3 separate regions of the Homo sapiens genome follow, and regions 1 and 3 are each linked to region 2. Evidence: fine-mapped expression QTL. A gene starts in region 2. Each other region holds a variant in brackets. All regions are shown on one strand. Distances are between the middles of the regions.

Region 1 (10,152 bases), 64 kb after region 2:
GGCAGAGAGCTTGACCTCTGGGAATTTCTACAAGGTTCATTGGTTGTCCTCTGCTGATATGAAAATGAGTTAATTTAGTACACTTGATAGGTCAGTTGTGTGCATTTTAACAGGGACTCTCTGAGGCAATGCCTGAGCTGAAGGATAGATATAATGGTGAGAATTTTAAGCATGGAATGCACCCATAGAAGGGAGGCTGATATGGGGTATTTGCCTGCCCTTCAATCACATGCCATCAGCAATCATCCATTGCATTTACATCTAGGGTAGTCTTGGATATGAGGACATAACATGGAGCTTTATCAGAAATTGCATGGGCTTTGATATAAGAAGATTTCAATTCAAATCCCATGTTTACCACTTTCTACTTGTATGACTTTGGGCAAATCAAGTCACTTACCTAAATTGATGATCTATTAAGTGTGTATAAGATTTGGTGTGCAGAATAAAATGATAAAATATGTATGCCCTGGCCAGGCACGGTGGCTCATGCCTGTCATTCTAGCACTTTGGGAGACTGAGGCCAAAGGATCACTTAAGCACAGGAGCTTGAGGCTAACCTGGGCAACACAGTGAGACCCCATCTCTACCTTAAAAAATTTTTTTTGATGGGGTTGTTTGTTTTTTTCTTGTAAATTTGTTTGAGTTCATTGTAGATTCTGGATATTAGCCCTTTGTGGCGATTCCTCAGGGATCTATAACTGGAAATACCATTTGACCCAGCCATCCCATTACTGGGTATATACCCAAAGGACTATAAATCATGCTGCTATAAAGACACATGGACACGTATGTTTATTGCGGCATTATTCACGATAGCAAAGACTTGGAACCAACCCAAATGTCCAACAATGATAGACTGGATTAAGAAAATGTGGCACATATACACCATGGAATACTATGCAGCCATAAAAAATGATGAGTTCGTGTCCTTTGTAGGGACATGGATGAAATTGGAAATCATCATTCTCAGTAAACTATCACAAGGACAAAAAACCAAACACTGCATATTCTCACTCATAGGTGGGAATTGAACAACGAGATCACATGGACACAGGAAGGGGAATATCACACTCTGGGGACTGTTGTGGAATGGGGGAAGGGGGGAGGGATAGCATTGGGAGATATACCTAATGCTAGATGACGAGTTAGTGGGTGCAGCACACCAGCATGGCACATGTATACATATGTAACTAACCTGCACAATGTGCACACGTACCCTAAAACTTAAAGTATAATAATAAAAAAAAAAAGAAAAAAAAAGATGGCAAAAAAGAAATTTTTTTTAAATGTAGATTCCCTTGCTTTTGTAAAAGCCCTGGTTTCTGGCTTATGTAAAAATAGTAGACAGAGGGGAAAAAACCTAGAAGAAAATGCCAATAGCATAAAGTAGCAAGACTACAAGGATTTATTTTCTTTTTTTCTGTTACATAGAATTTCCAAAATATAATGTGAATATGTTTGTAATTAAAGCATTATTTATAAGATGCACATATGCCTATAGATGTAATCATAAAGCAATATTCAATCACATTGTTGTTATTGGGAGTAAGATTAAAAGGGCTTGCCCTGTATATTGATGGCTTCATGTGCTTTTAACCCAGGACCTCACAGAACTCCTGGGTCACATGCCTTGCACACTCTCCAGCAGCCCAGAATGGAAGTCCATGCCCCTGAACTTGACTTCTGTGATGCTGATTCTTCTGCATATGTATATATATAATATATATACACGTATATACGTATATATATAATATTATATGTATATATATATACGTATATACGTGTATATATATATATTTATTTTTTGAGATGAAGTCTCACTCTTTCACCCAGGCTGAAGTGCAGTGGCATGATCTCAGCTCACTGCAACCTCCACTTCCTGTGTTCAAGTGATTCTCCTGCCACAGCCTCCCGAGTAGCTGGGACTGAGACTACAGGCATGCACCACCACGCTGGGCTAATTTTTGTATTTTTAGTAGAGATGGGGTTTCACCATGTTGGCCAGGCTGGTCTCGAACTCCTGACCTCATGATTTGCCTGCCTCAGCCTCCCAAAGTGTTGGGATTACAGGCATGAGCCATCGCACTCAGCCGCTTCTGCATATATTAAATTGGAAATAAAAATTGCCCAGAAAATCCCATCATTGTGGATTATTTGGGGCTGTCACTTTTCCAGTTTAATTTTCCTTCTCTGACTTGCCTCTTAACATAGCTGTTAGTGCTAAGAAGGACTCCTCAGATTCAGGCCTTCAGAGTTCTGCTTTTGTCATAGGTGCTTATTTCCTAGAAGCCTAAGCCTGTTGGGTACCCTCTGGGAGTTGCCCTTGTCCAGGTCCCCATCATCTCTTCCTCTAGATGCTGTTGGAAGCAAGAGCCTAAGAGGTGATTAAACAATGCCAGTTTCCCCAGACCCAGTGAATCACACACTGTTCTGTTTTGCCCAGTTTCCCTCTGTAGGTCTCGCTGGTTCCTTCTTGGTCTGCACTCTAATTCCCACTCCTTCTCCCTTTATGGCATGGTCCACATTATCGCGGAAGACCATGCTGAGGCCCGCAGAGCATCTGCAGAGCCTCCAAAGGCTCCAATGGCTCTAGATACCCATCCAGGGACCTGTTTTACTTTTCCACCAACAAAAACTCCTGTGGTTATTTTAGGATCTAGCAGAGGGCTTGGCACATAATTAAATACTCAGTAAATATTGTAGAAAGAATGAAAACCACATTTATGAAAAAATAATTTATCTCCTTTTGATTTTAAACCCAAAGAAGACACATGGCTGCCAATCAGAGCCTTTTGATCAGCATGAAATAACCAGGGCCACTGTTCTGAGCTGACATGATTCATCCCAAAGCAAATAAATGTGGCATTTAGATAGCTTATGCAGCTAATTTTGGGTAAATATATGACCTCAACTGGATTTTGAAGAAGATTGGCAATAGGGCACAGACTTAAAGAACCACCTTCCTGTACTGCTTGTGGTTAGAGGACCTCAGGCAGAATTCATTGCCCCCACAACCATGAGGTATTCATCCTGATTCTTGGCCAGAGTTTCTAGATTTGTCTTCCGAAACCCTTGCCAGGTACAACTCTGTTCAAGCCACTGGGACATGCATTATCTGCTCATCCCTCAAAAATAGTCCAGATGGAATTTGACACATCCTGCAAGCATTCTTGGGGCATTTCTTACAGTGACCAATAAAATGCTTGTTCATTCTGTCGTATGGGCAGTCAGAGGCACTAAGAGGTCAGGCATACACCCAGTAGGTGGCCACGTGTCATCTGAGAACTTGGTGCTTTTCTGTTTGCCCCCTGGACATCAGCTGAATTACGGAAAGCCTGGAAGTGTGGGTTGCATGAAAGTGCCCTGCTGGGGTCTCCCTTCTGTGTATCCATCTTCTCATTCAGAGCTGCTCTGGTGACCATGTGGGCTGTCCCCTCTCATCCAGGATGGTGTTTGGGGACAGAGAAGGAGCAAGTATAAAGGAGAAGGGCATTGACACTGGAATCCATCCAATCTCTGCCAGGAGTTCTCTGCGTGACCTCAGAATCTTTGGTCCCCAAGTAGGAGGCTATTGGCATTTTGGAAGGGACAGTTGTTTATCGTGTGGGACTGATGTATACAATGCAAGACATTTAGACTCGCCAGCCTCTGCCCACTAAATGCCTGTAGCATCCTCAGTTTCATGACCATTGAAAAGTCCCATGTAGTTCCCGGGAGTGAGACTGCACTGAGTCGAGAACCATGGGCTTGTGATTGCCTGTTCTCTCCATCTCTGACATTCAAATGTTCTGGGTGAAATCGAGGGCTCTGATCTCTTCACTTTAACCACCTTTTTCTCCCCACTGTCCCACCGTGAGATCCCTCCTCAGTCAACAGCCTACAACTTCACTCTCAGCCACGTCTGCCTCCAATCAAAACTTACTCATTCTGTGTTTCCTTACGGCTGGCTCTGTGCTTGGGGGGGGTTATCACCCACTAATTTATTTCTTAACAATTATGCTAATGGTTCAAGCCATCAACAAAAAGCTCTGGTTCCTTGCTTTTCTGTACAGACTCTTAGATGCTGGTGCTGGGGGAAATGTATGGATCAGTTTGTAAATGGAAAAATAGTGCTGGGTGAGATGTGAAAACTTCAGAGTGGAACTCAATCCAGCAGGTCCAACCCACACTTTGTACCCAGACTGCTATTTGGCTTCCAGCCTATCCCTCCTAATTTTTCCCCAAACGAATGTTGCCAGATGAATCTTTTTACACTCGCAGCAGAACCTAAAGACAGAGAGGCTTTCCAATGAAACACATGAGGACTCAAATCCCAGCTCTGCCCCTACCTACCTGTGTGACGACGGTATAACTTACTTAACTGCTGAGATTCAATGTCCTCATTCTCAAAGAACCTAATAGAAAAATGAGATAACAGCCGTGCTTTTCCTGCCCAAGAATGGTAGTTGTTATTATTGCTATTATTATCAGCATCACTGTTCTCTTCTCCCCTCATTCAAAAGATGTCAGTGGCTTCCTACTGGGTGGGAGATAAAGCACAAAGTCCTTCACTGGTCCAGAGGTCTCTGCAATTTTCCAGTTCCTATTCTAGCATTCTGTCCCACTGCACCCTGCATGCAGCCCAGTGGGCCTCCTGTGTTCCTGAGTAAACCCAGTCCACATCCCTGGCACACAGTCAGGTTCACAGTCATTGCAAGGTGATAGGCACTGCAGAACCTCAATTGCATAGTAACCTCATCACAGTCTGGGATGAGGCCACACTCGAATCTTTGCCATCTGAAGATCTAGCAGAGGGCTTGGCACAGAATTATATACTAAATAAATAAATAAATAAATAAATAGAGTCCTCTCTCTACCTGCTCCACTGGATCAATCCCTGCCAGCACAGGGGCTCAGCTGCCCAGGGAGGCCTTGGCTCTTGACCAACCAGTTTGTGTCCATCAGAAGTGCTTGACAGTGACCACCAGGCAGGAGCTGGAGGGCCTGCCATCCTGAGCTCTAGCTCTGGTTCTGGATATTGGCTGAATGACTGCCACATTGACCTTCTGTCTGGGGCTCCTTTGATCTTTGTTGCTGCTGGATGCAATGAATTTCCTGGTCTTCCTTAGGGGCAATAGAAGGGCTAGGATTGGCTCTCACCTAACAGAAAACACATAAGGAACCTCTGAGGGATGGGGATGGAGGTTTGCTTCTGCACTGGGTTTTGCCTTCCATTGCTCTGCTGGCTGACGTCTTGGATAGAATCTCCCATTGAGGATTTGCACTCCTTGCCTCATGCTTCCTATGGCCTCTATTGTCTCTTCATCTTCATCATGCCACCTGAATCCCTGGCACTCTGTGTGCTCTGACCTTGGGCATAACACCTTTACTGTCCTTCTTTGACAGTTCCAGGAGAGGTTTGGTGGCCCTCGCTCCCTTGCAGGCTGTATATTGCTGTGGCATGATAACATGACCATGGCCATTTAACAAACCCCACAAGACAACCTAGCATCACACAACCAGGCCAGGTGCTGGGGAGGGACATGTGACTGGCCCCACTGGGCGCAGATGCCACAGGTTATTAGGGATAAAGTTGGGTTTCCTGCCATGGCTGGCGCCACCCAGTGGCAAAGACTCCTTTCATCTCTGTGCCCTCTGCTTCCCACCTTTTTATCTTCTGTGTCCTTTCTCAGAATGTCCCCTGGGCATATCTTTTGGGTCTTGAGTGCAAAAGAAATGATGTGACTGTTGGCATGAGGATTTATAAGGGCCCTATGGACCCACAGGCACAAGTAAATAGATCATCTTTTTTTTTTTTTTTTTTTGAGACAAAGTCTCACTCTCTCACCCAGGCTGGAGTTCAGTGGCG[C/T]GATCTCGGCTCACTGCAACCTTCGCCTGCCAGGCTCAAGTGATTCTCCTACCTCAGCTTCCCTAGTAGCTGAGATTACAGGCATGCGCCACCATGCCGGGCTAATTTTTGTATTTTTAGTAGAGATGGGGTTTCACCATGTTGGCCAGGCTGGTCTCAAACTCCTGACCTCAAAGTGATCTGCCCACCTCAGCCTCCCAAAGTGCTGGGATTACAGCATGAGGCACCACGCCTGGCCACATAGATCATTTTGAGGAATAAATCAGCCCATGTATGAATGCTGGTACCTGAGGTGAAAAAAACCATGGGTTTGAGCCCTGGCTTTGTCACTTCCTGAGGACATTAGTTTCCCCGGGGCTACTGCATCACTTTACCACTAACCGGGAGGCTGGAAGTTCAAAGCTGAGATGTCAGTGGACTGAACTCTGCTGAAGACTCCAGGGGAGGATCTGTCCTTGTCTCTTGCAGGTTCTGGCGGCCCCAAAGGTTCCTTGGCTTGTGGCTGCCTTACTCCCATCTCTGCCTCCGTCTGCACATGGCCTTTTCTCTCAGTCTCTCTTATAAGGACACTTGCCATTGGGTTTAAGGCTTTCTCAGGCAAGCAGGAATGTCTCTTCTTGAGATCCTTCATTAAGCCCTTCTTTCCAAATAAGCTCATATTCACAGGTTGTAGGAGTTAGGATGAGCATGTATGCATGTAGGGGACATTATTTAACCTACTGTACTGAATGGCCTTGAAAAGGCACTTAGCTTCCCTGAGCCTCGATTTCATTCTCTATAAAATGGGGATAGTAATTCCTGCCTTACGAGGCTATTACGAAAATTAAAGTGAGTTTGTCACATAGCAGCTGCTCAGTAAGCACACATTTTTAACACTGAGAGGTCTCCATTGCAAATCCCTTGATCATGACCATGCATACCTCTGCCCACCTCTACAACATCTCGTTTCTTGCCCTGGTTTTCCTTTTCTGGCTTTCTGACCTTCTCTGTGTTCCTAAAACTCCTAGCCCATTTCCTTCCATGTAGAAAGCACTTACCACATATTTTAAAGTTAACTCATATCCCCAGGCCAGGCTGGCTTTCTGTGAGTCCTCAGGACCATAGAGAAAGCATTAGTGAGTATCTAGTTCTTCCACTGGTTACAATGGAAGAGCTTACAAGTCGAGAGACCTGGAGACTAGACCCAGCTCTGCACCCTTAGAGCTGTGTGACCTTAAGCAAGCGTCTGAACTTCTCCAAACCCCAGGTTCTTCATCTGAAAGCAAAGCTGATGATGCCTGTCTTGTCAGCCTAAGCCAGCTTCATGCAAAGTTAGACTAGGATAATGTGGTGGGTGTCGAGTGCCCCCTGAGCACAGGGTCCTATCATCATTTCTAGCTCGGGCTGGAGGCACATTCCATAACTCCAACTGCCTGCTCCTACTCCATCTGCCTTCTTTCTCAGGCATCCCTCTCTGCCTCCCCTCCACCTATTCAGGCTTCCACTTCTGATCCTTTCCCCAGGTAGAAGTCCAAGGCCACTGCCACTCTGGCAAGGGCTTACTAACTCTGCCAGTGACTTGTCAGTCAGCCTGGCCATGAGCAGAGACTGCGGGATGGGGTGTCATGACCAGGGAAGTCGCATGCAGGCACCAGGCCTGCCTCTCTGTTCAGGGACTCACTGGTGCCGTCAGGACCAGCTTAGTTCTGCAGAGAGAAGACCCATTGTGCTGCAATGACAGGGGCCTCTGGCTCCAAAGCACAACAACAAGAACAAGGAGAACAAAGCAGTTTAAGTCCAGCTGGACCTCGGTTCAAATGGGCACTCTAACTTGCTAGCTGCATTGCCCTGAGCAGGCACATAAACCCTCTGAGCCTCAGTTTCCCCATCCGCACATGGCAACAACAGTCCTTACTTGTGGGTCCAGAGGTAATGGCTCTGAAGCAGGCATGTGGCACCTGATAGCTGTCCTGATGCAAAAGACAGGGCAAAGAGACTAACATTTATTCAGTGCTTCCTGTCTGCTGGATGCTATGCATGGGTTTTTCTCATTTAATTTGTACAGCTCTGTGCAGGATTAAGATGGAGAAAGAGACTAGCGAGAGCTGGTAAGAGAGGTGATACTTGTATTTGACCCCACACTGGTCTAGCCCTAAAGCCAGAGCTGAGTTCACTGCCCCATTACCTCCTCCTGCCAGTCTCCAGCCAGCACAGAAAGGCAAGGGGTTTGAAGTGGGTCTCAGAGTCTCTTTGGCTGGCAAGGATGTAGGCAGTGAGCCTGCTGGCTCTCGCCACCCTCCCCTGGCACAGTGACCACAGAGGGTGACCGAGGATCAAATGGTCCTGAGGATGGCCACTCACTGCTGGCTGCTCCTCACTCTCTTTGTAGTAGCCTTCATGGGCTCCCATCACCTCCACCCCTCTGATCCTCCCAGATCTGCTCCTTCCCTGACTCTCCTGTTTTGTCTCCTGCCCCGCCCCCTCCTCTTTCCACTTTCTGATCTAGCGTCAACTAGCTTGACCTGATCCCACGGACACTGAGTGGCGTTCTCACCCCGACCCTTGGCCGTGATGTTCCCTTGCACAATGCCCTCCTGCCAGCTCCTGTCTGATTCTAACTCATCCTTCAAGGCACTGCTCAGGTGCTACCGACACCAGGGACACCTCCCAGGCTCCCTGGCAAATGCTGGGGGTGTGGAGCCCTATTTCTGTGTCCCACAGCAATTCCTCATGCTGATTTCTGGTGGTGTGGAGCCCTATCTCTGTGTCCCACAGCAATTCCTCACGCTGATTTCTGGTGGTGTGCTGGCTGGCCCTGTGATGACGACATGATTCCTTAATGTTTTTCTTTCCTGTGTCCCGGATTGTCTTAAATAGGGTCAAACACAGCTTAGGTCAGTCGTCTTGGGAAAGGGAAGGTGAGAGGCATCTGAAGAGGCCTGTTAACATCCTATGTCCAATTCCCTCTCTTCCCATATCAGAATTGGCCCAAAGACTTCTGGGGCATGTGCGGGGAGAAGTCCAGGACACACAGTTATTTTATGAATGCCTCCCAGCTGATTCTGCAGGAGGATTTGCTTCTCACCCTAACCCTTGAATTGGGCCAGGTTCTTGAGCTATGGAGGGAGACAGATGAGCACCCCTTGATCCATACGTTTTTGGGAAACCCACGCTTGCATGTGCTAGGGGGCTTGAGACTGGAAAGCCAATTATGAAGTATCATTAGTTCATGGAATCTGAGCTTGTTTAGCATCATTGTGGGAGGGAGGTCGGGGTAGGGGACCCCCAGGGAGAGTTGGTGGGGAGAGGGCCTGGAGGAAGAGCAAATGAGGTACCCCTGAGATTCCCTCCCCAGTGTATAAAGACCTTTCTTATGAGAATAACCTGTCTAATCCATCGATGGTAAAATCCTGTCCTCCCCTTTTCTCAGGTTGGTGACAGCGTCCCAAGCTGGTGACAGACCCACTCTGTAACTTTCAGCTAGATTCAGCCACCAGATCCCAGAAACATGACCCTTGCTGGTAGGTACAAAAACCATGTGTTAAGGGGCGTAGGCTATTCCCCCTGCCCTCACCCAACATGGACTCACAGAAGCAGGGAAGAACACAGCTGGCAGGAAGCACACGGGGTGTGTGGGGGGGTGCAGGTAGTGATGGGAGGCTTGGGGGCATGCAGGCAGTGGCGGGAGGCACACCACTGCCTGTCACCACAGGCGACAAGTTGAACAAGTGGTGGGGGGTGTGTCACAGCTGAGATTTTCTTCCTTTTGCTCATCTGTATATGTGTGTTTTTTTTTAAGTTTTTATGATGCCTATATATTATTTTTGCAGTTACACGTATTTTCAAATCTGTAAAAGGAAGCCAGGTATAGTGGCATATGCCTATAGTCCCCAGTATCAGGAGTCTGAGGCACAAGGATCGCTTGAGCCCAGGAGTTTGAGTCCAGCCTGGGCAACATATTGAGACCCTCATCTCAACAAAAAATTGTACAAGCAAATGAGGATGGGGGCAACACCTGCGCTGTGCTAGGGGTCAGCTAAGGGCTGCAACCTGAGCAGCCAGACACACGGGCCCCAAGGCGGTGAGGAGAGGGACTTTCAGGAGCCAGGACAGCTCTGGCCCCTGACATCCCAAACACAGATAGACTAGAGGGTGGCGGGGATATGCTCCAGCTTTTGGGGACACCAGCGACCCCCAGGCTCTGTGCACTGTGTTGGAAAGGTCAGAGAAGGCTTATAGCCTGACCTTGTGAGGGGCAGACCAGAGGGATGGTGGTGAGGACGGTCCCCTCCTATCCAGCTCCTTAACCCTGCAGGCCAGCG
Region 2 (10,152 bases):
TATCAAATGGAAAATTTTCTCCCTTTTATAATAAATAGCAGAGCCCCTAATGTATCTCAGGTAATCACCTTCATCACATGATTCAGGTAAATTCTGATTAGCTCAAATCAATCATGATGGTCTTATTCCCCTTGCCAGTGATGAATTTAGAAGTGAACATGTGACCCAGTTCTGGCCAATAAGATGCAAGGGAGTATTCTGGAAGGTTTTAAGAAAGGTTTCTTAGCTCTGAAAATGAGACATACAGGGAGAAATGGCCTTATTTCATTTCTGGACATTGGTTCATATCAGGATAAGATGCTGGAGTTGCTGCAGTCATTTTCCAACCAAAAGGAAGCCATAGGCTGACCAGAGAGAGGATGAATCTAAAGTCACTGACATAACCAACAGTGGATGCCTTTTGCCTCCAGATTTCCTGGTATGTGAGATAATACACCCCCTTATGGCTTAAATCATTTTATGTTGCATTTTATCTATATGTAGCTTAAAAGATCATAAATGATACAGACAGAAAAAAGTATAGGTCAAATAAAAGATGTTTGCAGTCAAATATGACCCAGAGGCAGGCAGTTTACCACCCTCAGTGTTTCCCTAGTTACTTGGATTAAACACTATTTCTCACAGAAGTTCTCCCTGCATTATTCAGATCAACTGAGAGCTCCCACCCTCCTTGTTTCTGTAGTTTAGGCCTCAGTAAAGGTACATCGGACTACAGTGATTTCCTCAAAGATTTACTTGGTAACTCTGATGAACAAGGTCGATTATGTCTGCAGTGCCAGGATGCCTGTTTCCGAAGATGCTGCTGCCAGCCCTGTGGCTGACTTTATTTAGCAACTGTTGTCCTTATCCCAATATTTTGTTATCTGAAATCTGCTTTGTCTGATATTAACATAGTCAAACCAGCTTTGTTTTTATTAGCATTAGTGTGGTATATCTTCTTCCATCCTGTTAGTTCAATCTGTATGCTTACATTTAAAGTTAAGTTCCTTATAGCCAGCATATAGTTGAGTCTTGCCTTTTTATATAATCTAACAATCTCTGCCTTTATTTGCAGTAGCCACTTTCTAGTTCACTGTTTCAGAAAAAAAAAAAAACAAGGCAATTTCCTCCTTTACTCTCTGCACCTGGGAATTTATTTTCTTAACAATTTAAAAAGTTATTCCTTACACAAATTTACATGGTGATGGCAAGGGGTTTGGAAATCTGGCAGTGCTTGGCAGGGCATTTGGGAGGTGGGATGCAGGAAATTAGAGATTATGAGAACTTTTGAGTAAGCTCTTGCAGAAGATTAGCTAGTATACATAGGACTTGAACATCAATAAGGACCTCTGAATAAGGTCCTTTGTATTGAAAGGAGAAATATAAATTGGTGACAGATTGGTTCTAGTCACCAAGATTTCTCTTTCCTGGTCTCTGGCTAAGTCTTAGTCACCCTTACCCACCCCCCCACCATATGCAAAGAATAAAACAATTTCAGAGCATCTAAGTTGGTCAGAACTTGGAGCAATTAGTTCCATCTTTTCTTTTATAGTGGAGGAAAAGCAAGTTAGAAAAGTGAAATAATATGCCCCAGGTCCTGCCCCTGGGTAGTGGTAGAGCTTGGACTAGAACTAAGTCCTTTCTGGATTTCCAGAATGATTGAAGAGCCTTATTGGTTTAATGTTAACCTTTGTATTGTAGTTTAAAAGATACAATTTCTACTCTTCCTTCTTGTTTTTGATTTGTGGCCCCATTCAGAATATGAGAAAAAAAAAAGACCCAACAAAATAAGGAAGATCAGGTAAGAACAGAATGAAACACATAGACAGCAACACATATCGATTCACAACACAACTGGGACACAGAGATAAGAGAACACAGTGAAAGAGAATGAGACGACGTAAGAGTCTCTGCGTTGGGGGGAGGGGAGAGGGCTATCTGGAGTGTAGCGTTGTTAGCCCCATCTTGTGGCTTTTTTGGATATTGCCTCTAAGGTTAATTTTTGAACCACTAACCAACCATAGCTGGAGACCCAACAACTTGTTGGGTGAATAGATCTAGGATAATTGCTTTCAAACTTTCTTGCACCTCAGAATCACCTAGCATGCAAGTGAAAATGAAGATTCCTGGGCCTCACTTTCCACAAGAGAGATGAGTAGATTAAAGTGGGCCCAGGAAACTGCTTTTAGAAAACTCCCCAGGTAATTGCAGGAGAACCATGAACCACATTTAAGAAACACTGAAGGCAATTAGAGTTAGTGGTATTCATCCCTTGTCATTGTGAGGAAAGGACTATGCTGAGGAAAAGTGTGGAAAGAAATTATTAAGAACTTTAAAGGTCTGAGATTTTACCCTACTTGCAAGCTAATGTGTGGGCCAAGGGAAAACGTCTCCTTTGCCCCTTGAAGTTTCACTGCAAATCACTGACAAAAAGGTTAAGAAGAGGAAAGGGATAGAAGTTTATTTATTTTTTTGAGACAGGGTCTGGCTCTGTCACCTGGGCTGGAGTGCACTGGCACAATCTCGACTCACTGCCACCTCCCGGATTCAAGCGATTCTCCCACCTCAGCCTCCAGAGTAGCTGGGACTGTTAATGGTGGAGGGTGTCCAGGTTATTGGCATCTTGAACAAAGAATTGGAAAAAACGCACAAACTAAGCAGGGAAGGCATGAAGGGTTTTATGGAAAATGAAAGTAAACTCCACAGTGTGGGAACCGGCCTGAGATAGGGGCTCAAAGGCCCCATTACAGAACTTTTGGGGGTTTAAATACCCTCTGGAGGACTCCATTGGTTACCTGGGGTACGCCCTATGTAAATGGAGAGGATGAAGTAAAGTTACAAAGTTATTTACTTGGCCTACGCCCTATGGGGAGGATATTTGCTGTCGCAGCTGAAGTGTGAATTGGCCTTATGTTCCCTGCCTCCAGACCCTATTTTCCTGCCTCAGGCTATAGGCGCACACCACCACACGCGCCCGTTGTATTTTTTGTAGAGACGGGGTTTTGCTATGTTGCCCAGGCTGGTTTTGAACTTGTGAGCTCAAGGCCTTCTTCGACCTCCCAAAGTGCTGGGGTTACAGGTGTGAGCCACCACTGGCACCTGGCCCGATCCGCCATGCCTGGCCTGATCATAGTTTTATGTGACATGGGAGCCTTCAGAATGAAGACCTAAAGATAGACTGGAAATGGCTCATTTTCATGCTTAGGTTCAGCAAAGTATGAGTAGCTGTGTAGAAATATGATTGAACAAAAGGGTATGAGCTAATGTTAATAAACTGAGTGGGGAACCTAGGCCTGTCTGTCTAGATTTTTCTTGGCCTCTACGAACATGCATTTCTTCCTTCCAGGTATGTTACAGGTAGTTAGACAGGCATGAGCAGGGCAGGAGAGGACTCTACCCTCCCCAATCCCCTCAAGCAAGAATGCCAGGTGATGGTTTCACAGTTATCACACTGCCTTTCTAAAATGGATAATTTGGCAGATGGGCCAGAGAGAGGGAGAGAGACAATTCCCTGATGGTCCACAGCTGTCACTAAAGTGTTACTTGATGTTAATTGATATTAAAGCAGGTGCCAGGCATAGGCAATTTCCCAAACAGATAAAAACACTTGAGATTGGTAATCAGCTTCCAATAAAATTTCAGAAATTGGGTGAGTGAGCTTGGGCATGCACATTAAGAGACAAAATAGTGGAGTATGACCTTCCGGGGGCATTCCACTGGAAAAGGGAAGAAAGCCTCAGATGGGCATGTGTACAAATTCCTAAGCACATGGTGCATGCTCACCTCCCAAGCATAGGGAGGGCACTGTGCATTCGGGCAGCTCACACTGAGGGAAGAATGAAGGGAGAGGGCAGCAAGACTCCAGAAGTGGGCCAGCATATGAAGTCCCAGGATCAGGGTTAAATGCCACACTTGTCCCTCAAGTTGCCCGCTTGGGTCTCTTCCAAGTGTACTTTCTTTTCTGTCCCAAACTTTTTAATAAACTTCCACTCTTGCTCTGAAACTTGCCTCAGTTGCTTTTTCTGCCTTATGCCCTGTATTAGTCCATTTTCACATTGCTATAAAGAACTGCCTTAGACTGACTGGGTAATTTATAAAGGAAAGAGGTTTAATTGACTCACAGTTCCGCATGGCTGGCGAGGCCTCAGAAAACTTACAATCACAGTGGAAGGTGAAGGTGAAGCAAGACACCTCCTTTGCAAGGCTGCAGGAAGGAGAATGAACACAGGAGGAATTACCAAACACTTATAAAACCATCAGATCTCGTGAGAACTCACTCACTATCAGGAGAACAGCATGGGGGGAAAACCACCCCTGTGATTCAATTACCTCCACCTGGTCTCTCCCTTGACACGTGGGAATTATGGGGATTACAATTCAAGATGAGATTTGGGGTGGGGACACAGCCAAACCATATCATGCCCCTCAGTCTAATTCTTTCTTCCAAGGAGGCAAGAATTGAGGTTGCTGCAGACCCATACAGATTCACTGCTGTTAACTCAGACACCTTCTACCCCTAACAGGTATGGGGTAGGACCCTCTCTGGAATCGGGCTCTTATGGCCTACAGTCAAACAAGGTAGGTCAGATAATTTCTTTATGGCCAGTTATTCCACAGAAAGGCAGAGAGAAAGAGTAATATTTTAAGGTTTCAAGACTGGCTTTAGGAAAAAGGGGTTCTGGTTTCTATGACCTGCCTTGGGGAAAAGGAATTCTAATTTCTATGGCTATCCTTGGGGGACTGAGAGATAGGAGGGCAGAGAAAAATTTCTGCTTTTGAGGCCATTTTGGGGTATTGTTTTCTGAGTTTCAACACTAACAAGTTTGCATGCCAAAATTTCATGAATACTGCTAAAAGATGAAACTCCTGGGTCAGAGACAAAGGATAATACTAACAGCAATAATAGTAGTCACAGTATTGTCATTGGGCCAGTTTCTGAGCCCTAATTCTTGCAAGACTATGTGATGAAGGCTACAGTAGGTTGCATTACAGGAGAGGGGCCCCAAGTTTAGGAAACTCACATCTCTTATAATTGGGAATAAGTCTGCCAGATCTTTGGAGAGACAAGAATTCTGTCTTCCAGGGCTATTCAATGCAGAAACATCCTTGAAAAGATAGTTGGAAAAAGGCAGTCAGTGCCTCTGCTCTCTCAAGACATGCAGGAACATGACACATGTGAATTGTCTCCCAATAGAAAAGGAATGAAAGTGCATCGTGTGAAAAGTATTCTGCATCTGGAGGCTGTAAAGTGATCAAACTGAAGCAGGAATGAAGATCTGAAGGAACCATCCAGGCCTACTGTACCTGGCAAGAATTGAGCATGAACTCTAGTTATCTCAGCTAAACTTTGCAGAAGTCCTCAATTTCACTGTTTTAATGGGCACTTGCCCATTAAAACAGTGGTTGTCATGAGCACTTTCCACATTTATTTCACTTTATCCTCACACTTCATGGAAACAGAGCTATTACAGCCATTGTACTCATGAGTAAATGGACTTTGAAACATGATGACCTGTTCACTTTTTCAACCACAGGACAAGAATCAGGTTTTCTCGGAGCTCTTCTGCCGCCACCCCTCTCTTGTTTCTCCTTACCGCGGCGGGCCAGAAGAAGACTGGCCAAAATAAGTAAACGACTAATGCAAGAGTGGCATAGGTCCTCAAAAAGGCGCTGCAAACTTAAGTGGTGATTGCACTCACGGTGCTTTAAGACCCAGCCACTACTTCGGAAGCAGGAAGTTGGCATCTCTGGTTTCTCCCATCCGCGGGCCTGAGGTTCCCGGGGATTGGTTAAGGTAGAGGCTCCTTTTCCCATTTGCAGCCGGAAGTAGGTTTCCAGTAACACGGAAGCCCTACTACGCCGCCTGGGAGACCCTTCCGTGCTACCCCGGCCAGGGACCCGCCCGGACCTGAGGAGGCGGGAACTGCGGGCAGAAGGCCCACCCCGCTCTCCCAAGATTTCCCGCGCACACCGGAAGTGGGTGGGGCTCCTCCGAGCGCCCCCTCCCTCCCCCTCGCCATCCCCCCCGCACGATTGGCCAGCGCCGCTGTCTCTCAGCGTTCCAGGGGAAGGGACTGGGCGATTCCCAGCACTCGGGTCGCGGGCGTTGGCAGCCGGGCGGGTGGGAGGGGCCGGAGCAAAAGTTCCGGGCGCCCGAGCCGGCTGCTCGTGCCATGGAGCGGAGTCCCGACGTGTCCCCCGGGCCTTCCCGCTCCTTCAAGGAGGAGTTGCTCTGCGCCGTCTGCTACGACCCCTTCCGCGACGCAGTCACTCTGCGCTGCGGCCACAACTTCTGCCGCGGGTGCGTGAGCCGCTGCTGGGAGGTGCAGGTGTCGCCCACCTGCCCAGTGTGCAAAGACCGCGCGTCACCCGCCGACCTGCGCACCAACCACACCCTCAACAACCTGGTGGAGAAGCTGCTGCGCGAGGAGGCCGAGGGCGCGCGCTGGACCAGCTACCGCTTCTCGCGTGTCTGCCGCCTGCACCGCGGACAGCTCAGCCTCTTCTGCCTCGAGGACAAGGAGCTGCTGTGCTGCTCCTGCCAGGCCGACCCCCGACACCAGGGGCACCGCGTGCAGCCGGTGAAGGACACTGCCCACGACTTTCGGGTAAGAGCAGCGATTTGCACGAGGCGGCCGAGCCGGGTCTGGAACCCGGAATCCCTTGGCTCTGCGGCTCCCGCCCCTCCTGCCTGCCAGAGCCCAGTGTGCCCGCGTCTCGCTCCCAGCATGCAGGACCCCACCTCTCCGACCCAGGTTCTCAGGGCTGGCTGCTTCTTCAAGGTCGGCCCAGGGGCCCGTGCTGGGAGAAGAGAATGCGAACGGAAAGTGACAGATGAGGTTACATGATGTTCCCAAGACAGCGACACTTGCTTCTGAAGGGCCCAGGCCATGCACCCCTTGTGCCAGCCGGGTGTGGCCCAGGTCCCTTTAAGCGGCACGGATGTGGGTGCAGCCCACGAGCCCTGTAGCTTGGCACACTCAATTTAGAAGTGGAGGAGGAGCCACAGACCTGGCCAGGGGTGTGGAGTCTTAAGATTTCCCCCAAACCAGTCACCTACTTGCCAAGCTGATCCCGCGGTTTGTATTATCTGAGTGAGAGGTCTCTGACCCTGGCTGGCTGGCCTATTCTGGTTTATAAAGCAGCATCTCCATATCTAGAGTTCTAGTGACTATACATAAACCCAGGAGCAACTTACAGGGCAAAACTAACATGGAGAATTCTTTGATATAGGAAGGAAAAATGAATAGAAGATAAGGGTTAGCCTAACTCAGCATTTTCCAAAACGTTTAATCTTAGCCCATAGGAAGCAATGCATTTTCCCTTGTGACCCAGAACATATGTATCAGTTGAAACAAAAGTTTTCTGAACATGTCCATGGCACTCTGATATTTTCTGTTACTTCCCTTTGTTTTTTTTTTTTTTTGAGACCTCTATCGCCCAGGTTAGAGTGCAGTGGCGTGCTCTTAGCTCACTGCAACCTCCGCCTCCTGGGTTCAAGCGATTCTGGTGCCTCAGCCTCCCGAGTAGCTGAGATTACAGGCATGTACCAACACGCCTGGCTAATTTTTTTTTTTTTTTAATTTCTAGTAGAGGCAGGGTTTCACCATGTTGGCCAGGCTGGTCTGGAACTCCTGGCCTCAAGTGATCTGCCCTCCTCTGCCTCCCAAACTACTGGGATTACAGGCGTGAGCCACTCCGCCTGGCCTCTGTTACTTTTAAAAATTACCCAGAATGTGAAACATTGAATTTATTTCATCACCTGCTAATGCATGAGTCAGAGCCCCAATTGGGAGAACACTGGGTAGCTGGCCCGAAGCTGCATGGACTGGAGAGGAGGAGCTGCCCGAGTCCCCTGTGCCTGGTTTCTGGCCCCCTCTGTGGCCCTGCCTTCTTTTTTTGCAATACCTTTTTAAATACGGAAGTCTGTTCCGCTCCAAATGCATTTGACAAAGTTTAATTGAAGGGGAATGTAAGGATGCTGTCAGTACGCATGTCTCAATGAGTAACCCTGTTACTCCTGTCATCTTTTTTGTTTAACATGGGTCCATGTCAATGCTTTTCCTGTTTCCACTGGCAGAAGTGACAGATCCTGATTTGGGACAGCTGGAATAAGTGCTGGCCAGCCAGGGGTCTGGGGCCCAGGTAAAGGAGGGATCATGGTTCAGGTCATGACTGATGCCTATTTGGCTGGCCGAGGTGCTGATCAGGAGATGCTGGGGTCAGGGCTGAGAACACCCAGGCAGAGCCCCCAGGCTGGGGCCAAGCCAGGATTCAAGAGCAGAGAGCCATGCACCAGCAGATGCCTGGTACTGCAAGGTCCCAGGGATACTGCAGGAGACAAGATAGACCATTTCCAGCCTCAAGGAGCTTCCAGCAGAGACCCGAGGGAAGAGGAGGTGTTAGCCAGGTGAAAGAGGGTATTTCAGATAGAGGCAGCAGCATTTGGAAGGGTCCAGAAGTGGGAAAGCCTGACTTTCTAGGCACTGAGGGAATTTAAGGGTAGTTAGAATGAGGAGGGACGTGCAGGAGGATCCAGGAGGCCGGTGGCTCACCCTTGCTGTGAACAGCAGCTGGGGGTTTTAGCAGAAGAATGATGGTGTCAAGTCAGTGGACACTCAGGATGATGTCAGGGGCTGAGTAGTCTAGTCCCAAATGGATCTGAGAAGAATGAGAGCCAGGTGTGGTCAGCCTGATGCAGGGTGCAAATCACTCATTTACTAGACAAATGGGTACTGATGGCTGTTGTGTGCTGTGGCCTCTTCTTAGCTTCATGGAATTCTCATTTGAGCAGGGGGCATAGACAGTCAATAGACAAGATGTAGTTCTGTGTGATTCAAGGTAGGTGGTTGTGGGGGAGCGGTATGGGAAGATTCCCTCCACCACTTGGTAAGAAGGGACTGGGTAAGAAGCTGTGTGCCTCACTGAGGGGGTTTTCCGTTTTGTGCTGTGGGGAGCTCTGAAAGATTCTAAACAGGGGAGTTTGTGATGGGATGTGTGTTTTAGAGAAAGATTACTTTGCCAACTATCTATGTGAGGAACAGCAAAGTCAAAATCATCCCAGCTAACACATTTCAGTGCTCACTGTGTGCTAGATGCTTTTCAGTGTTCACACGTCAACAAATTTAATGCTCACAAAAACGTATTTTCAGGTCCTGTGTTTCCTGTTACTGCGTAATAAATGTGGTGGTTTAAAATAGCACAAGTTTGTTCTCTTATGGTTCTGGAGGTTGGAAGTCCTAAAATCGAGGTGTCTGCAGGGCTACATTCCTTTTGGAGGCTCCAGGGAGAATTTATTTCCTTGCCTTCTCCAGCTTGCAGAGGCCCCTTCTTCCAGCTCTGAAGTGTGTCATTCCGTTCTGCATCTGTTGTCACTTTGACTTCTTTGACCAGTTCTACTACCTCCCTCTCATAAGGACCCTGTGATGACATTGGGCCCACCCAGGTAATCCAGGATAACCTCCCCACAGCAAGATCCTTAATTTAATCATCTGCACAGTCCCTTTTGCCATACAAGATTCTGGGGATTAGAATGGGGACATCTTTTCGGGGAAATAATTATTCAGCTTGCTACAGTTAGGTGCTATTATCCCCATTTTATAGACAATTATAGAATCATAGAGAGGGTAAGAAACTTGTCCAAAGTCACAGAGCAAGTAGCTCTAAAGATCACCTGGAGCCTTGTTCAGTTCACACACTGGTCCTGGACTTTGAGAGAGGTTTCTCTCATCTCAGACTTCAGCGGGCAGCTGACTGTGTGTTAGGGGTTGGAGTGGCTGTTGACCATTGTCAGGGCTGGCAGAAGGTACTGGTTGTGTGCCAGTACTGTGTCCAGGACAGGACCGGACAGTCCTAGACCTTGCCTTTGTGGGCATGGTTGTATCATCTCACTAATAATTACATAGTTTCAGCTCAACATTCCTGTGAAGGACAGTACAGGATGTGGTGGGAGATTGTAAGGGGGAGGCTGCTCTTGTTTGGTGGGGTGTGGGAAGGAGTCTCCAAGGAAGTGATTTCGCTGAGAGGAGCTGATTGAGGGGCGGCGAGCAGTGTGTGTGTGTGGCGGGGGTGTGGCGGCGGGGCACAGCGTGGGGGTGTGCAGTGACTGAGAGATGGTTCACGTGGGGATGAGGAACTGCAGGACAGATCCCACAGGACACAGAGGGCCCTGCT
Region 3 (10,152 bases), 51 kb after region 2:
GAGACACAGAGAAATAAAGAGGGAGAGAGAGAGAAGGAGAAAGAGAAAGAAATGGAGAGAGAGAGAAAGAGGGAGAGAGAGAAAGAGGGAGAGAGAGAAAGAGGGAGAGAGAGAGAGGGAAAGAGAGAAAGAGGGAGAGAGAAAGAGGGAGAGAGAGAAACGGAGAGAGAGAAAGAAAGAGGGAGAGAGAGAAAGAGAGGGAGAGAGAAAGAGGGAGAGAGAGAAAGAGGGAGAGAGAGAAAGGGAGAGAGAAAGAGGGAGAGAGAGAAAGAGGGGAGAGATAGGCAGAGAGAGAAAGAGAGGGAGAGAGAAAGAGGGAGAGAGAAAGAGAGGAAGAGAGAAAGAGGGAGAGAGAGAAAGAGAGGGAGAGAGAAAAAGGGAGAGAGAAAGGGAGAGAGAAAGAGAGAGAGAGAAAGGGAGAGAGAAAGAGGGAGAGAGAGAAAGAGGGAGAGAAAGAGAAAGAGGGAGAGAGAGAAAGAGAAAGAGGGAGAGAGAAAGAGGGAGAGAGAGAGAGGGAGAGAAAGAGAAAGAGGGAGAGAGAGAAAGAAAGAAAGAGGGAGAGAGAAAGAGGGAGAGAAAGAGAAAGAGCAAGAGAGAAAGAGGGAGAGAGAGAAAGAAAGAGGGAAAGAGAAAGGGAGAGGGAGAAAGAGGGTGAGAAAGAAGGAAAGGGAGGGAGAGAGAAAGAGGGAGAGAGAACAAAAGAGGGAGAGAGAAAGAACTGACTTGTGATTGCTTTCCTGACTCTTCTTTTTTGGGAGGAATCCTCCGTTTTGGGTTAAATAAAGAATTCCCAACTCCTCTTTTCTCCCCTTTTCTAGTAACTGTTTATTTTGAAATAATTACAGATTTGGAAGTTGCAAAGATAGTATAATAGAGAGGTCCCACCTACCCTCTACTCAGTTCCTCCCGTGGTTACACTTTACATAACTGTGGTACTATATCAAACCAGGAAATGGGTGCAATGTGTGTCTATAGTTCTATGTCATTTTATCCCATGTGTAGACTGGTGTAACTACCACCACAATCAAGACACACAACTGTTCCATCCCACAAAGGTTTTCTTCTTGCCACCCCTTTTAGAGTGATCCTTCCTTCTTTCCACCACTCCTAGCTCCTGGCAACTACCAGTCTGTTCTCCATCTCTATAGTCTTGTCCTTTTGTGAATATTCTATCAATGGAATCATACACTTTGTGACCTTTTGAGACTGGCTTTTTTTTTCTCAGCGTGATTCCCTTGAGATCCACTCAAGTTGCTGTGTGTATCAGCAGTTCATCCTTTTTTATTACCAAATAGCATTCCATGGTACGGATGAACCACAGTTTGTTTATCCATTCGCCTATTGAGGGACATGTTGGTTGTTTCCAGTTTGGGGTTATTATGAATAAAACTGTGATGAATATTTGTGTACAAGATTTTTGTGTGAATACATTTTCATTTCTCTTGGAATCACGCCCAGGAATGCAATTGCTTGGTGATCTGGCAAGTATATGTTTAGTTAAGAAACCCCCAAATGACTTTCCAGAATGGTTGTACCATTTTCCATTGCCACCAGCAATGCAGGAGCTATCTAGTTTCTGTGCATTCTCACCAGCATTCGGTATTGTCATTATTGTTTTTTCTTTTAATGAATAGAGACAGGGGTCTCACTATGTTGCCCAGGCTGGTCTTGAACTCCTGAGATCAAATGATCCGCCTGCCTAGGCCTCCCAAAGTGCTGGGATGACAGGATGACAGGTGTGAACCACCACACTTGGCCTACTGTTTTTTTGTTTGTTTGTTTGTTTTTTGTTTTTTGTTTTCTTTGAGACTGAGTCTTGTCTGTCTCTCAGGCTGGAGTGCAGTGGCATAATGTTGGCTCACTGCAACCTCTGACTCCTAGTTTCAAGCGATTCTCCTGCCTCAGCCTCCCAATTAGCTGAGGTTATAGGCACGTGCCACCACACCTGGTTACTTTTTTATTTTTAGTAGAGATGGGGTTTTGCCATGTTGGCCAGGCTGGTCTCATACTCCTGACCTCAAGTGATCCAGCCCACCTTGACCTCCCAAAGTGCTGGGATTACAGGTGTGAGTTCACTGCGCCTGGCCTACTGTTTTTTAGTTTAGCTTTTTTCACAGGTGTGTACTAAGGCCTCATCATGGTCTTAAATTGCACTTGCCTTATCATACTAATGTTGAATATTTTGTCATGCATATGTTTGCTATCTGTATATCCTCATTGGTGAAACATCTCTTCATATCTTTTGTCCCTTTTCTAATTGGATTGAATGGGTTTTGTTTGTTTGTTTGTTTTTGTGAACCAAATTTTTTTAAATTTTTTTTTTGTTAAATATTTTTGTTGTTGTTGAGATGGGGTCCTTGCTATGTTGCCCAGGCTGGTCTTGAACTCCTGGGCTCAGCAGTCCTCCCCCTTTGGCCTCCCAAAGTGCTTGGATTATAGGTGAGAGCCTAGTGAGTATTTAAAATTTGTTTTACTCTTAGATTTTAATATAAATTGTCTTTTTTTTTTTTAAATAAACAATCTTGGAATGTGCTTCTGTTACTTGCAAACCTAAGACTCATTCACAGTCTGCTCTTGTATTTAATGACATCATAATAATAGCTAACATTTACTGAGCCCATACTTTGTGCCAGGCAATGTTCTAAGTGATTTACAGGTTTTAGCTCACTTGATAAATATTGCTTTTATAAACATCATATGTTGTGGTTATAAATATTAACCACCATTACAATTTAGTTAACAAATCTAATCAGGGACATAAACAAACAGCTCTAGCAATCCAGCTTTGCTTGGATTCAAATCGATTGAATTGATTTGTGTTTTAATTTGTTGAAGGAAAATCTAAGCCACTAGTGACTCCAGAGCATGTGAGTCAGGACAGCCACTCTTCAGGTGAAATAAGAGTTCACATTTTTAAAATGACATAGTGCAAACATGTTTTTACTTGTTTCAAGTCAATAACTGATAATGTTCAATTCAACAAATTCTACAGAAGAAAATCCCACAAACTGCAATTTCCCATTGATAAATTCCCATTGATGTTCTATAGTTTTTACAAACCACATTGGTGTGAGTGGAAGAGACATGCATGTATGGATTAGATATTCTGAATTCCCATGTGAGACTAGGTCCACTTTTTCTGAGGGTTGGGAAGAGATCCCAGGCTCCATGAGGGTCCCCAGGGTGACTTCCCAGCTGGTCCTATGATAGAACTACCTCTGAGAAGGGCAGGGGCCCCTTCCTTTGTGCCTGAGAGGCTGTGAGTGTGAGTTATTATATGGTGAGTCAAGTCACCAAGCAGTGGCTGCCCTGGGATTCCTGGGCAGAGATATAGGAATCGGGTCCGCATGGTGCAGCCAGGCAATGCGTGGGGATTCAGGGAATGGCCACACACACTCCATCCTAGTATTGTTGCTGTAGTGCAACTTGGGCTGTGAGAGGTGGTGTCTGCAGAGGGGCGTTGTGGGCCCCATGCCCCTTTGGCTAAAGTCCAGCATTTGGGTAGATTGATCACAAGCAACAGGTCTAACCCAAAGTTGACTTGGCAGGTCCAGGGCCAGCCCACATTTCTCAACAAGGCTCACAGGGGCTTTCCATATTGCGGTGTGAGGAACAGAGCGCCCACCTCGCCTTCCCCTCCACCTGCTCCCTGATCGCCATCCTGTCCTTCTGAGCCTCCTAGTTTTGACCTTGCTGATTTCTTTTCTGATTTTGGTCTCTCCTCGCCCTTTGTTCTATGGACTTGGTGTTTGGTACATTTTCTTACCATTTCTGTGTTTCTTGTTTTATCAACATATTGCTTTATGCCATCTCAGGGAAGTCCCAGGGACTCTCCCACCCAGTAGGTCTTTGGGGCCGTGGCTCTACCCTGCTTACCTTACTCACTCTCTCGCCAGTGTCTCCCGCATCCCGTTCCCCAGAGTTCAAATCCAGGCCTCGCTGCATAACAGGTAGGCTGTTTGAGGTTACCTTTCCTATTGGAGTCTGTTTCTTTTATAAATGGGGTGGGTAATCCCTTTCTCACAGGGCAGTTGTGAGATGTACTGAGTGTGTGTGTGTGTGTGTGTGTGTAACCATCACAACCTAGTACCAAATGGAAACTAGGTAATCCTAGAAATAGAGCCACC[C/T]TCCCCATGACCCTTCTCCCCGACCTTGGTCTCTGCTGTCAGGCAGTGATGTCCTGTCTCTTTCTCCCCCTGTTCCAGCTCCACCCTCCTTCACAGTCAGTGAGGGGGACTCAGACCGAACTTGCTCCTCCCCTAGCAGCAGAGGATCTCTGATTGGCTGCCATCACCATGGCAACCTACTGCCTTCTCTCCCCATCCCTCACTTTCCAGAGCCAGCAGATTTGTGGAGTTCCAGACTTCTCAGGGCTGGGAGGGAAGATACTAGGGGAGGACAGAGAGGCCCCCTTCACAGCTAGGATAGCCATGCATTTGGGGTTTGCTTGGACTCCAAATTCCAGCCTGGTATGCAGTGTGGCCTCTCCTGTCTCCACATGTTGAGGGAATGACTTTCTGATATCCTTAGTTGTCCTGATTCCCACTGAAAAGGCTCAGCTTGATGGCTGAGGGTCCTGGGTTGGTGGCATGTGGCATGAATGATAAGTGTGTTGTTCAGTGATACTCACTGAATGTCAAACAGCACAGTGTTCGTCCTGCCGTCCTTGCAGCCCTGCTGAAAGGATTACACCATAGATTCAGCTCTGGTGTGCTTTGAAAACCCCAAAGGCTGTCAGGGCTCATTCCTCATCCTGGCCACCGCTTGGCCAGGGGCTGGCAGCCTAACTGGAGCCCTCCCCTCTGGATGTGAAGTGGGGGCTTGGAGATGTGTGTCTACATGGGGCCTCCTGGAGAACCACACGGGGTGCTGTGGTGAGATGCCAGCTTGCAGGTCCTGGCAGTGGGGTGCAGGTCAGGGGTTCATGCCAGGGCTTGAGAATCTACTTAATCCCCAGCACAGTCTGCAGGGTGAACATGTGACATCCATGCATTAACTATGATTTTCAAATGCTCATTGATGCTACTGTAGTTTAAAAATAATAACTTCAAAGCATGGGCTGAATTCAAGGCAACTTTTGTCATTATTCGTGTTCTCAGTCAATAGGGGTTTGGTGGTAGAGGGTGAACAAACCCTCCTAAAATAGGGTGAGGTGCCAGGCGTGGTGGTTCATGCCTATAATCCCAGCACTTTGGGAGGCCAAGGCAGGTGGGAGCCCAGGAGTTTGAGACCAGCCTGGGCAACATGGTGAAAACCTGATTCTATAAAAAATTAGCTGGGTGTGGTGGCACATGCCTGTAGTCCCAGCTACTGGGGAGGCTGAGGTGGGAGTATCACTTGAGTCTGGGAGGCAGAGGTTGCAGTAAGCCATGATCACATCACTGCACTCCAGCCTCAATGACAAAGCAAGACTTTGTAAAAAAAAAAAAAAAAAAAAAAGGAGGGAGGAGCAAGGTGATGGAATTATCACACATGCTACAACATGGATGCTCCTTGAAGACATGCCAAGAGAATGAAGCCAGATACAAAAGGACAATACTATTTGATTTCACTGATACGAGGTGCCTAGAATAGGCAAATTCATAGAGACAGAAAGTAGTTTGGGGTTAGCTGGAAAGGAGTGTTATTGCTTACTGGTTACATATGAATATTGGGGAACATGCCAAAGTTCTGGAGATGGAAAGCTGTGATGGCTACACAGCAATGCGTGTGCACTTGAGGCCAGTGAGCTATACACTTCAAAATAGTGAAAATGGTGAGCGTTATGTTGGACATGTTCAGCCTCAATAAAATTACCCCTCCCCGGCTGGGCGTGGTGGCTCATGCCTATAATCCCAGCACTTTGGGAGGCTGAGGCAGGCAGATCACGAGGTCAGGAGTTCAAGTCCAGACTGACCAATATGGTGAAACCCCATCTCTACTAAAAATACAAAAATTAGCCAGGTGTGGTGGTGCGTGCCTGTAGTTCCAGTGACTCAGGAGGCTGAGGCGGGAGAATCTCTTGAATTCGGGAGGTGGAGGTTGCAGTGAGCCGAGATCACGCCATTGCACTCCACCCTGGGTGACAGAGCGAGACTCTGTCTCAAAAAAAAAAGAAAAAAAATTACCCCTCCCCACCAAGAAGAACACATGAGGCAAGGCTGGACGGTGGAATGTGGGGATGATGGACACATCTTGGGGGGATTTAATCTGGAGAGGTGTTCTGGAGGAGGGGGTCTCGCTCCACAGCTGCCTGGCTCCTCTCCTGCCTCACCCTGCCCTCTCCAGCTCACTGGCTGAGGGCAGCAGCCTGTGAAGGTTATGTTAGTGGCTCCCTCATTCCCTGAGGGAACTACAGAAGCCACCATCGCTGACCCGTCACCCCCCCTCAAGATTCCACCATATGGAAATGTAAACTAGTACAGTCACTATGGAAAACAGTGTGAAAAATTTTTAAAGAACTAAAAGTAAATCTACCATTTGATCCACCAATCCTACTCCTGGGTATCTACCCAGAGAAAAAGAAGTTATTGTACAAAAAAGATACTTGCACATGCATGCTTATAGCAGCATGATTCGCAATTGCAAAAATATAGAACCAGCCCAAATGCCCACCAATTAACAAGTGGATAAAGAAAATGTAATACACACACACACACACACACACACACACACACACACACACACCGTGGAATACTACTCAGCCATAAAAAGCAATGAAATAATGGCATTTGCAGCAACCTGGGTGGAATTGGAGACCATTATTCTAAGTGAAGTAACTCAGGAATGGAAAACCAAACATCATATGTTCTCACTCATAAGTGGGAGCTAAGCTAGGAGGGCGCGAAGGCATAAGAATGATACAAGGGACTTAGGAGACTTGGGGGAAAGAGTGGGAGGAGAGTGAGGGATAAAAGACTACTCACTGGGGACAGCGTACACTGCTCGGGTGATGGTGCACCAAAATCTCAGAAATCACCACTAAAGAACTTATTCATGTAACCAAACACCACCTGTTTCCCAAAAACTTACTGAAAATTTTAAAAAATCCACCATATTTGGGAATCACCAGTGTAATGACCAGTCCATCTTCCTACCTGTGGCTCCCTCTGGAAGGCCCAGGAGGGCTGGATGGGAGGGGCAGTGAGGACCCACTAGTGTCAGCAGAGATGTGGCTGATACCTTTGCAAAGGTGGCCAGAGGGAAGCCTTATTCTCCAGAGACTCCAGTGCAGGGCCCTCATCAGCTCCCAATCCTGGGGTTTTTGCAGTCCCCGCAACCCCCCGCCTTCTGAGTCATCGTTCAAACCCACCAGCCCTTCTGACAGAGCTGGAAACAGGCACCAAGCCCTCCAGGAAGCTATTTTTAGGGTTCATCTGTTCTTTTTTATTTCTTCTCTGGATTCCATATTCTCTCACCCCCAAATTTAAAGGACCTAAAGATCCTGGAAATCATTCATTATACCCCCAGCTCGCAAGCTGTGGCTTCTCCCCAACCTTCTCTGTACCACTCCCTCTTTCTTTCTTCCTCTCCGCCCTCACCCCTCTGGTTCTCCAGCTCCACAGGCAGCAGAGAAAGCAGGCTCTTTGTCTGACATCATCTTTCACTCCCTGGCCTGCTAAGAGTTACTCACTCAGGCAATCCCTGCTCCACCAGAGGAGACTGTCCAATTGCCAAGCAACCCACTGCTGGCCAATCACAGAGCTTGGAGGTGATGTCATGGCAAGAGCGAGCAGTGGTGCTGATGTTGAGAGAAGCCCAGGGTACCACTAATTGAGGGAGTGAGGAAGAGAGCAGCTCGCTTCTAACTGGACTGCACGTAAGTAGAAATAAAATGCAACTAATTTGAGGCTTTTCAGGCAAAAGAAAAAACAAGACAGCAGCTACAGTGGGGAGAAGCGAGGGGCCTAGCACCTATTGTGTCACCTTTGGTTCTACTCAATCATTTAAACTTTGTCAGATCTTGGGGGAAAGGGGGTGAGGCAGAAAGAATGGCGCTCGGCCAAGGGGTGAGGGTGGGCTCCGGGTGCCACTTTTATTCCAGAGCTCAGGAGAGGCAGGATGGGTGGGAATTGTCAGATGCTATGGTGAGCTATTTCTGCATAAAAATGTTTTGTTGCTTAAGGAGAAAGGTTTTGTGCTGAGTCTGGCTGCCCCTGCAGCTGGCTGTGACCTGAAGATCCCTTTCAAGTGGGAAGCTCTCCTGTGTTTTTACCTTTTCTTCCTCAGACACAGCTTTTCTTGTCTCCCATTCCCATTTTGATCACACATCTTTTCCTTCGGCTCTATGCACGGGTTACTTTTTTCTCTTGGTTCTAAGGATGCAATGAGATCATCACCTCCTCTTGGCCCCGCCCCACCCTGAGGTCAGCCTAATCCTACCTGGCCAGAGGTGGCTGGCTCCAAAGCTGAAAACTGCAGACACCCAGAACTGCCACGCCCTGGTCCTTGACTGGGGCCCTGGCCAGTCCCCCTCCTTATTCAGCCCACCACACTTGCCAGGAGTTTAGGCATCATTCATTTCTCATCCTGGGACCCAGGGTTTTGATGTCCAGCAGTCAGCTGTCCCCACGTGGCGGTGCTGTCTTTGTTTTATTTCTCCCAGGAAGACACAATCAGGTGTGGTGGAGTCTTGTTGTCCTGAACATGAGCAGGTCTCCAGAATGCTGTGTGTGTGTGTGTGTGTGTGTGTGTGTGTGTGTGTGTGTGTTTGTATGGGGGTCGGAGGGAGAGGTCAGGAATGTTCAGGCACCCTTATCTGAATGCCCTGGGAAGGGATACCCCCTGTCTTAAGACCAAGAGAATACAAGGTGGGATGGCCAGAGGTGGCCTGCTGAGGCTCGAGGGATGGGTGGGAGGTTGAGAGGGAATATGAGGGAATCTGTCTCCACCTGAGGCTGAGCCCCCGCCTCCCAGGGGGAGGAAACCTCTCCCACAGGCGGGTGCTAGGGGAATGAGATCATCCTTCAGATGAGGAAATAATCATAGTGCTGGAGCAGTGAGAAGGCAGAGGGGAAAAGGTCTGATCTGCAGCTCCACAGAAGGAAGCCAGAGTCTCCCAGCAATGCTGCCCTAGTCTCTGGCTCACCCCAACCCTCCGCTTTGCTGCTAGGAGCTGTACTTTCACCCCTCTTGGAAACCACTGAGCACCTGTCAGCTGGTCCCAGCCCTCCTGGCATTCTCAGCTCCACCCAGGCCACTCCTGGAACAGCTCTGGAGTGAGCAGGATCTGCAAGTGCTAGATGGGACTACCATAGAGCATGCTGCCCTGTAGGGAGTGAGTTCCCTGTCACTGAAGGCATTCAAGCAGAAGTTGGATGGCCACCCAGCAGGGAGGCTTTAGAGGAGATTTTTGCATTATGTTAGGGATTGGTCTAGGTTAGTGTTTTAACTGAAGGCTGAGACCCATTAGTACATTGTGAAATCAACTTATGGATTGTAAATGGTATTTTGTTTTAATAAAATGGAATAAGAGTAGAAAATAATTAGAGCACATCTCATGTAATGGGATAATTAATGCTTCCTATGCTGTCTTTAGTTACATATCAGTTATGTGTATATTTGTGTGTACAAATGTACATATATGTCTGTATCTGTAATCATATATGTGTGTATATGTCCATATCATGACAAATACATACTGGATCATAATATAAAATGTAGCACCTTTTGTGAGCTTCAGTCAAAAAAGTTTGAGAAACATTAGGCTAAGTGACTTCTAATTACCTCTCCTAACCCTAAGACTACAAGCCTATGAAAAACTCCCAATAGATAGTCAACCTTTTTTTTTTAATTTTTAACTGCGGTAAATACACATAACATAAAATTTGCCATTCTATTTTTAAGTGTACAAATCAGTAGTATTAAGATTTACATTGCTGTGCATGCAATCTTCAGAACTCTTTTCATTTGGCAAAACTGAAACTCCATACCCATTAGACACTAACTTCCCATTCTCCTGTGCCCCAGCCCCTGGAAAATCCCATCCTACATTCTTTCTCTATAAATTTAACTCCTCTAGGTACCTCAGATAAGTGGAATCATACAGTACTTGTCTTTTTATGATTGGCTTATTTCGCTGAGTGTAATGTCCTCAAGGCTCATCCATGTTGTACACTGTGTGTCCCTATTCCCAAGTAAAAAATAAGTGCCTTTAAGTTGTAATTAAATCTA

Alleles and levels. Positions count from the first base shown, and alleles are read on the strand shown. Sizes are in standard deviations (SD) of each study's normalised expression.
In carriers of allele C in region 1, the expression in substantia nigra of the gene that starts at base 6,116 in region 2 tends to be higher than with T alone (moderate effect, 0.72 SD a copy in GTEx).
For the expression in putamen of the gene that starts at base 6,116 in region 2, C is the high allele of the variant in region 3 and T is the other (small effect, 0.35 SD a copy in GTEx).

The links. PIP is the estimated chance that this variant, and not a neighbour inherited with it, causes the effect. A credible set is the group of variants that fine-mapping cannot tell apart.
Region 1: its variant is the best candidate, but not a certain one, in a credible set for the expression of TRIM35 in substantia nigra (GTEx, PIP 0.82).
Region 3: its variant is the best candidate, but not a certain one, in a credible set for the expression of TRIM35 in putamen (GTEx, PIP 0.89).

The regions. Positions count from the first base shown.
Region 1 is chr8:27,242,910-27,253,061 of GRCh38, reverse strand. STMN4 (stathmin 4) reads left to right here. Exons shown (of 7, transcript NM_030795.4): 2 at 9,261-9,351. The coding sequence starts at 9,339. Among named protein-coding and RNA genes, the nearest start is that of STMN4, 10 kb to the left of the region's middle. RefSeq lists an enhancer at 9,955-10,152. The variant C/T (reference allele first, on the strand shown) is at 5,852.
Region 2 is chr8:27,307,236-27,317,387 of GRCh38, reverse strand. TRIM35 (tripartite motif containing 35) reads left to right here and starts at 6,116. Exons shown (of 6, transcript NM_171982.5): 1 at 6,116-6,587. The coding sequence starts at 6,153. It also overlaps a transcript of PTK2B not described here. RefSeq lists a silencer at 5,898-6,107 and enhancers at 6,258-6,407, 6,418-6,637, 7,038-7,147.
Region 3 is chr8:27,255,997-27,266,148 of GRCh38, reverse strand. STMN4 (stathmin 4) reads left to right here and starts at 7,745. Exons shown (of 7, transcript NM_030795.4): 1 at 7,745-7,798. The variant C/T (reference allele first, on the strand shown) is at 4,128.